Linked DNA regions of Homo sapiens. The protein of the gene in region 1 purifies or fractionates together with the protein of each later gene. This does not show direct contact. Each region holds a gene or a part of one and is shown in the gene's direction. Other genes may lie near its edges.

Region 1 (3,658 bases):
TTACTGTTCATAATAGCAAAAAGGTGGAAACAAACTATGTTCATCAACAAGTGAATGGATAAACAAAATTTGGGGTGTGTGTTTATATACACACAATGGAATATTATTCAGCCATGAAGTTCTGATACATGCCATAAGGATGAACCTTGAAAATCTTAAGCTGAATGAAATAATCCAGACACAAAGGGACAAATACTGTCTGATTTCACTTACCTGAGATATCTAGCTAGGCAAATTCACAGAGACAGAAATAGATTATAGATTACTTAGGGCTAGGGGAAGGGGGGTTATAGGAAATTATTAGTGGTTGCAGAGCTTCTGTTTTCAATGATGTCAGTGAGTAGCCTCCTGATAGGAGTTTTGGAAACAGATAGTGGTGATGGTTGTACAATGTTGTGAATGTAAGTAATGCCACTGAATTGTATACTTAAGATTGGGTAAAATGGCAGCCTTTGTTTTATATGTGTATATATAACCACAATAAAAATAATTTTAAAAAAGTTAGGAGATATTTAATACAGATTTCCTCTCCATCTCCCTTTAAAAAAGACCCAAAACACTTATAAGTTCACATTGTTCTATGCCTCGCCTTTTCACTTAATTTTGAAGCTTAGAGATATGTTTTATATAGGCCCACATATGCTGCCCTTTTTGTTTTTTGTTTTCAGACGGAGTCTTGCTCTGTCACTGAGGCTGGAGTGCAGTGGCGCAATCTCGGCTCACTGCAAGCTCTGCCTCCTGGGTTCACCCCATTCTCCTGCCTCAGCCTCCTGAGTAGCTGGGACTACAGGTGCCTGCCACCGCACCTGGGTAATTTTTTGTATTTTTAGTAGAGATGGGATTTCACCGTGTTAGCCAGGATGGTCTCGATCTCCTGACCTCGTGATCCGCCTGCCTTGGCCTCCCAAAGTGCTGGGATTACAGGTGTGAGCCACTGCACTCGGCCCCCTTTTTGTTTTTTTTAATGGCTTCATGTTCTTCCATCATATGAGTAGATTGTTGAGGGACATTGAGGTTGTTTACAATCATTTGTCATCCAGCCTGGGCAGCATGGCAAAACCCCATCTCTACTAAAAATCAAAAAATTAGCCAGACATGGTGGTGCATGCCTATAGTCCAACTACTTGAGAGGCTGAGGTAGGAGGATCACCTGAGCCTGGGGAGGTCAAGGTTGCAGTGAGCTAAGATTCTGCCACTGAACTGCAGCCTGGGCGGCAGAATGAGACCCCGACTCAAACCACCACCACCAACAACAAAAAACCCAAAAAATAATCATTTGTCATTACAAACAAGTGATGTAGGGAATAACCTTGCACATATGCCCTTTTACAATTAAGCAAGTGTATATTTGGCTTGCAGGATTAATTCCTAAAAGTGGAATAGTGGGTCAGAGGATATTTGTATTTCTAGTTTTGTTAGAGGTTGCAAAATTTCCCTCCTAGAGGGTATACCAGCAGTTTTAGAAATGCTGTCTATATTTGATGGGACAAAATAAGGGTGTATATAACTTAAATTTCTGATAAAAATAGAGTTATAACTGTATTGGTGGGTAAAGTAGTAAAGTGACCTAAATCTTCATCCTTCATAGCAGGAGGTTTGTAATGAGTATCTTAAGTGGATTGAGAAATAGTCAAAAAAGCATGTTATTTAGTGAGATGGAGGTAATCAGTGGAAGAAGTGCTTGCGGCTTTTCTTTTCTTTTTTTTTTTTGAGGCAGGGTCTCGCTCTGTCGCCCAGGCTGGAGTGCAGTGGCGCGATCTCAGCTCACTGCAGCCTCCCCTTCCTAAGTTCAAGCAATTCTCTCACCTCAGCCTCCCAAGTAGCTGGGATTACAGGTGCACCACCATGCCCAGCTAATTTTTGTATTTTTAGTAGTCGGGGTTTCACCATGTTGGCCATGCTGATCCCAAACTCCTGACCTCAGGTGATCCACCCACCTCAGCCTCCCAAAGTGCTGAGACTACAGGCACGAGCTACTGCACTCGGCCAAGAAGTGCTTGCCGCTTTTCATTTTAATCTGCTAACTTACCAATTGAAAACGTGCACTTCTTATCGTAAGCTTAAAAAAAGATAAAATCATCCCTGAAATCTTATGCTTTCTTCTCATCCCAGTTGCCAAAGCTCTGCAGGAATTTGACTTGGCCTTAAGAGGAAAGAAGAAAAGGAAGAAGTTTATGAAGGATGCCAAAAAAAAGGGGGAGATGACAGTGAGTGGCCTCCCTTTTGGAGTTTGGGCCCACTCGGTGGGGTGGGTCAGAGTGGCCTGGTGTGTTCCACACTCACACCTCCCCACTCCCCCTAGGCAGAGGAAAGGTCTCAGTTTGAAATCCTCAAGGCGCAGATGTTTGCTGAACGGCTAGCGAAGAGGAATCGCAGAGCCAAGCGGGCCCGAGCAATGCCCGAGGAGGAGCCAGTGAGAGGTCCTGGTAGGTGAATGGGGAGCCCAAAGGAGCTTGTACAAGGTTTTCCCTGAAACCTGTGCTTTGGGTCAGGGAGAAAATCTGAGGGATGATGACAGTAGCCCACATTATTTGAGTAATTAGTATGTACCAATGTGTACAGCTATCCCTCCACGGTCTAAGGGGCGCAGTGACCTTGTGGTTGTTGAGAACTAGGATTTGAACGCCAGCTTTTCTGACTCCGGAGCCTAAGGCCTCACCAGCTGCTACTTGGAGGAGCTGGTGAGGACAGAATGAAAATAGTCTTTGGATGCCAGAGTATCCACTGAACTTGGAATCATTACCTTGAACTTAAGGGGATTTAGGAGCTTGGGCCAAAGACAACCATATGTAACCCATTCTCTCTGTGCACAGCCAAGAAGCAAAAGCAGGGGAAGAAATCTGTATTTGATGAAGAACTCACCAACACAAGCAAGAAGGCCCTGAAACAGTATCGAGCTGGGTAGGATTTTAAGTCATCATGGAGCCCTTGGTATTCTTTTTTTTTTTTTTTTTTTTTTTGAGACGGAGTCTCGCTCTGTCGCCCAGGGTGGAGTGCAGTGGTGCATCTTAGCTCACTGCAAGCTCCACCTCCTGGGTTCAAGCAATTCTCCTGCCTCAGTCTCCCAAGAAGCTGGGACTATAGGCGCACGCCACCATGCCCAACTAATTTTTGTATTTTTAGTAGAGATGGGGTTTCACCATGTTTGCCAGGATGGTCTCGATCTCTTGACCTCCTGATCCACCCGCCTCAGCCTCCCAAAGTGCTGGGATTACAGGCTTGAGCCACCGTGCCCGGCGAGCCCTTGGTATTCTAATGGAAGCTATGAGTCTTCTGCCTCCTTCCCCATTTCCAGTTTTTGCACACCTATAGCTTTATACTATGTAAATTCAAGGGTACCTGTCTGTTCTCCACCCCCCACCCCTCTCAGAGCCACCTGAGGATCCCAAGGTGAGAACAGGAGAGGGGTGTTCAGTTAGCACTGTTCCTGCCTTGGAGGTGAAATAGTACATTGTTGGGTTCAGAAATGGAGCTTTCCTTCAGGGGAGTGATAACTCTTTCATCTCAAGTTCCATCCTGCAGAACCCCAGAGAATCCTGGCTTGCTCTTAGGAATATGTTGTCCCACACCATTTTCCCCAGCCCAAGGTTGGGGCAGGGGCAGACTAAGCTTCCCAAGTAGTGGTATATACCTAAGAAGGGCCTCTTCCAACCTTGTT
Region 2 (2,442 bases), on another chromosome or scaffold:
ACCTCAACTTATCAGACACTTCTGTAGTCCTCCCTTCCTTTTCACACATGTAAATCATCAACTCACTTTAATTAAGCTTTTTTTTTTTTTTTTTTTTTTTGAGGCAGAGTCTCACTCTGTCACCCACGCTGGAGTACAGTGGCACAATCTTGGCTCACTACAATCTCTGCCTCCCAGGTTCAAGTGATTCTCCTGCCTCAGCCTCCCTAGTAACTGGGATTACAGGTGTGTGCCACCACGCCCAACTAACTTTTGTAATTTTAGTAGAGACAAGGTTTCACCATGTTGGGCAGGCTGGTCTAATTAATTAAGCTTTTTAAACAATTTAACCAAAACAAAATTCTGGCATTAGATTCAGCATATCAGGAGGTACTCTTTGAAGACCATTGCATTTCTTTCTTTTTCAGTAAAATGAAGGGGAAAAAAAGTGTGTTGACCTGAATTGATTTGATATGGGGAAGAGGCCTTTTAAGATCAAGTCCTTTCTTTTTGTTACAAAGTTACCTTGGTTGAACATCATATTTTATTTGCATTTTATGCTTTTAGTTATTCTGTGAACTTTTCTGTACATCTGGTTTTGCTTAGTTTGTTCATATTTATTTCTCTTACTAGATAGTAAGTTCTCTGAGAGCAGAAATTTGTTTACTACCCCAGCACTTAACACGGAACCTTATTAGTTGGGTTCAATAAAAATACATTGACAAGAATTTGAGTTTTTATTTTATACTCCTATAGGACTCAGAAATAGTATCCTGATACTTAATAGGCAGTGGTTACTCAAAATCTGTACCAAAATCCAAAGGGTTTTAACTTAATTCGTTTTCTATAGGGAGGTATATCATACAAAGAGAATGCAACATGTTATCTGTGTAAAATGGACTTCTGACAGCAAGTATATTATGTGTGGATCTGATGAAATGAACATTCGCCTGTGGAAAGCTAATGCTTCTGAAAAATTGGGTGTGGTAAGAGAATTCATTTTCTTTCATTGTCATAAAGCTGATTTCTAATTTTATTAGATATTACATTATGAAAATTTACTTTTAGGTATTTTTGGGTATTTTGATTAAATTGACATAGCTGTGATAAAAAAAGCAATAAATGGACAAGGTTGTATTGATAATTATTTGCTTCATTCTGATCTATTATTGTAGACACTGTACATTCAAATTGACATTTAAGACCTTCAGAATGCCTTTGTTAATTCAGATGTTTGATAATATTGAGTCTTACTGGTTTTTTGTGTTTTCCTTGAGGTAGGGACAGAAGATGCAGGAACTAGAGGCTCAGAACTTAGAGCTCGTATCTCTTGTTAGAGAAATAGTCATCCAGCAACTCAAAGGCTGCAAGTCCCTGGGAGATCTTGTAATATCAAAGACACAATGGAACATTTAATAAATACAGAAAGCTTCATACTTTAAAAAAGATTCCATGAAAAAATAGCAGGTGTTATCATTGGCTGGTTACCTCCAGGATAGGGGATTATGGTTGATTTTGTTTTGTTCTTGATGTTTTTCTAAATGTCCCATATTTTCTATAAGAAACAGAGTGTTTATATTAGAAATAAATATTAAGTTTAAGAAGGAAAGGGTAAGTGTGAATTATTTTCTACTTAGTCCTGATAGGAAAATCAAAGGCAATTCTGTTTTAGGTTTAATGATTGATAAGTATTGCATTGTGCCTAGGTCCATCATTAAATGTTCCTCTAAATCGTATCATCCTTAACATTCGTTAAACAAAGGGTAGTTCTTATGGAATTGGATACTTATTTTTTCTTTGCTGTTTCACTATGTTTAACTCACCTCTTTACCCACCCCCAAAATTTGAGTGAGTGATTTAGGTGCTTTTCTATGTTATTGATGCCTAGGGAAGGTCCAACTCAGTGATCCACGTGGCCCTACTCCTTCAGCACTGCTGCTTTCTACTGGGTGGCATCTATCTACATGGCGAGTGTGTTGCCTAAAAGGAAATTCAGTGCTTGCAGAGCTAGTGTTACTAATATAACCTTGTAAAGTGCAGAATTACATTGGCAATTTTGGTTGCATATCATAAAAGATTAGGTTAGGGGGAAAAGGGTGCTTTCTAGCTTTTTTATACTGAAGCAAAACAACACACTATTCATTAAGATACCAAAATGTGTATTTTCAGCTTACATCACGAGAAAAAGCAGCCAAGGATTATAACCAGAAATTGAAGGAGAAATTTCAGCATTATCCTCATATAAAACGTATAGCTCGTCATCGACATCTACCAAAATCTATCTATAGCCAGATTCAGGAACAGCGCATCATGAAAGAAGCTCGTCGACGAAAGTATGTTTTGAGGCATTTGACTCTATTACCCTTTTCTGACTTCTGCTCTCATCTCACCAAAAACAAAGTTAACTGCCATTCAAGGGAGTAGTTTATGTGCTATTATTTAATAGTATGTTAGTGATGTGTT

The links. Proteins that work in one complex are often made in the same cells at the same time.
Region 2: the proteins of DDX27 (region 1) and DCAF13 fractionate together in Homo sapiens (co-fractionation; one large-scale study listed by BioGRID). This does not show direct contact.

The regions. Positions count from the first base shown.
Region 1 is NC_000020.11:49,239,781-49,243,438, forward strand, and holds part of DDX27 (probable ATP-dependent RNA helicase DDX27), read left to right. Parts: intron 1-2,112; coding exon 2,113-2,207; intron 2,208-2,302; coding exon 2,303-2,426; intron 2,427-2,813; coding exon 2,814-2,901; intron 2,902-3,658. UniProt on the Homo sapiens protein: Probable ATP-dependent RNA helicase. Component of the nucleolar ribosomal RNA (rRNA) processing machinery that regulates 3' end formation of ribosomal 47S rRNA.
Region 2 is NC_000008.11:103,439,307-103,441,748, forward strand, and holds part of DCAF13 (DDB1- and CUL4-associated factor 13), read left to right. Parts: intron 1-829; coding exon 830-965; intron 966-2,148; coding exon 2,149-2,312; intron 2,313-2,442. UniProt on the Homo sapiens protein: Part of the small subunit (SSU) processome, first precursor of the small eukaryotic ribosomal subunit.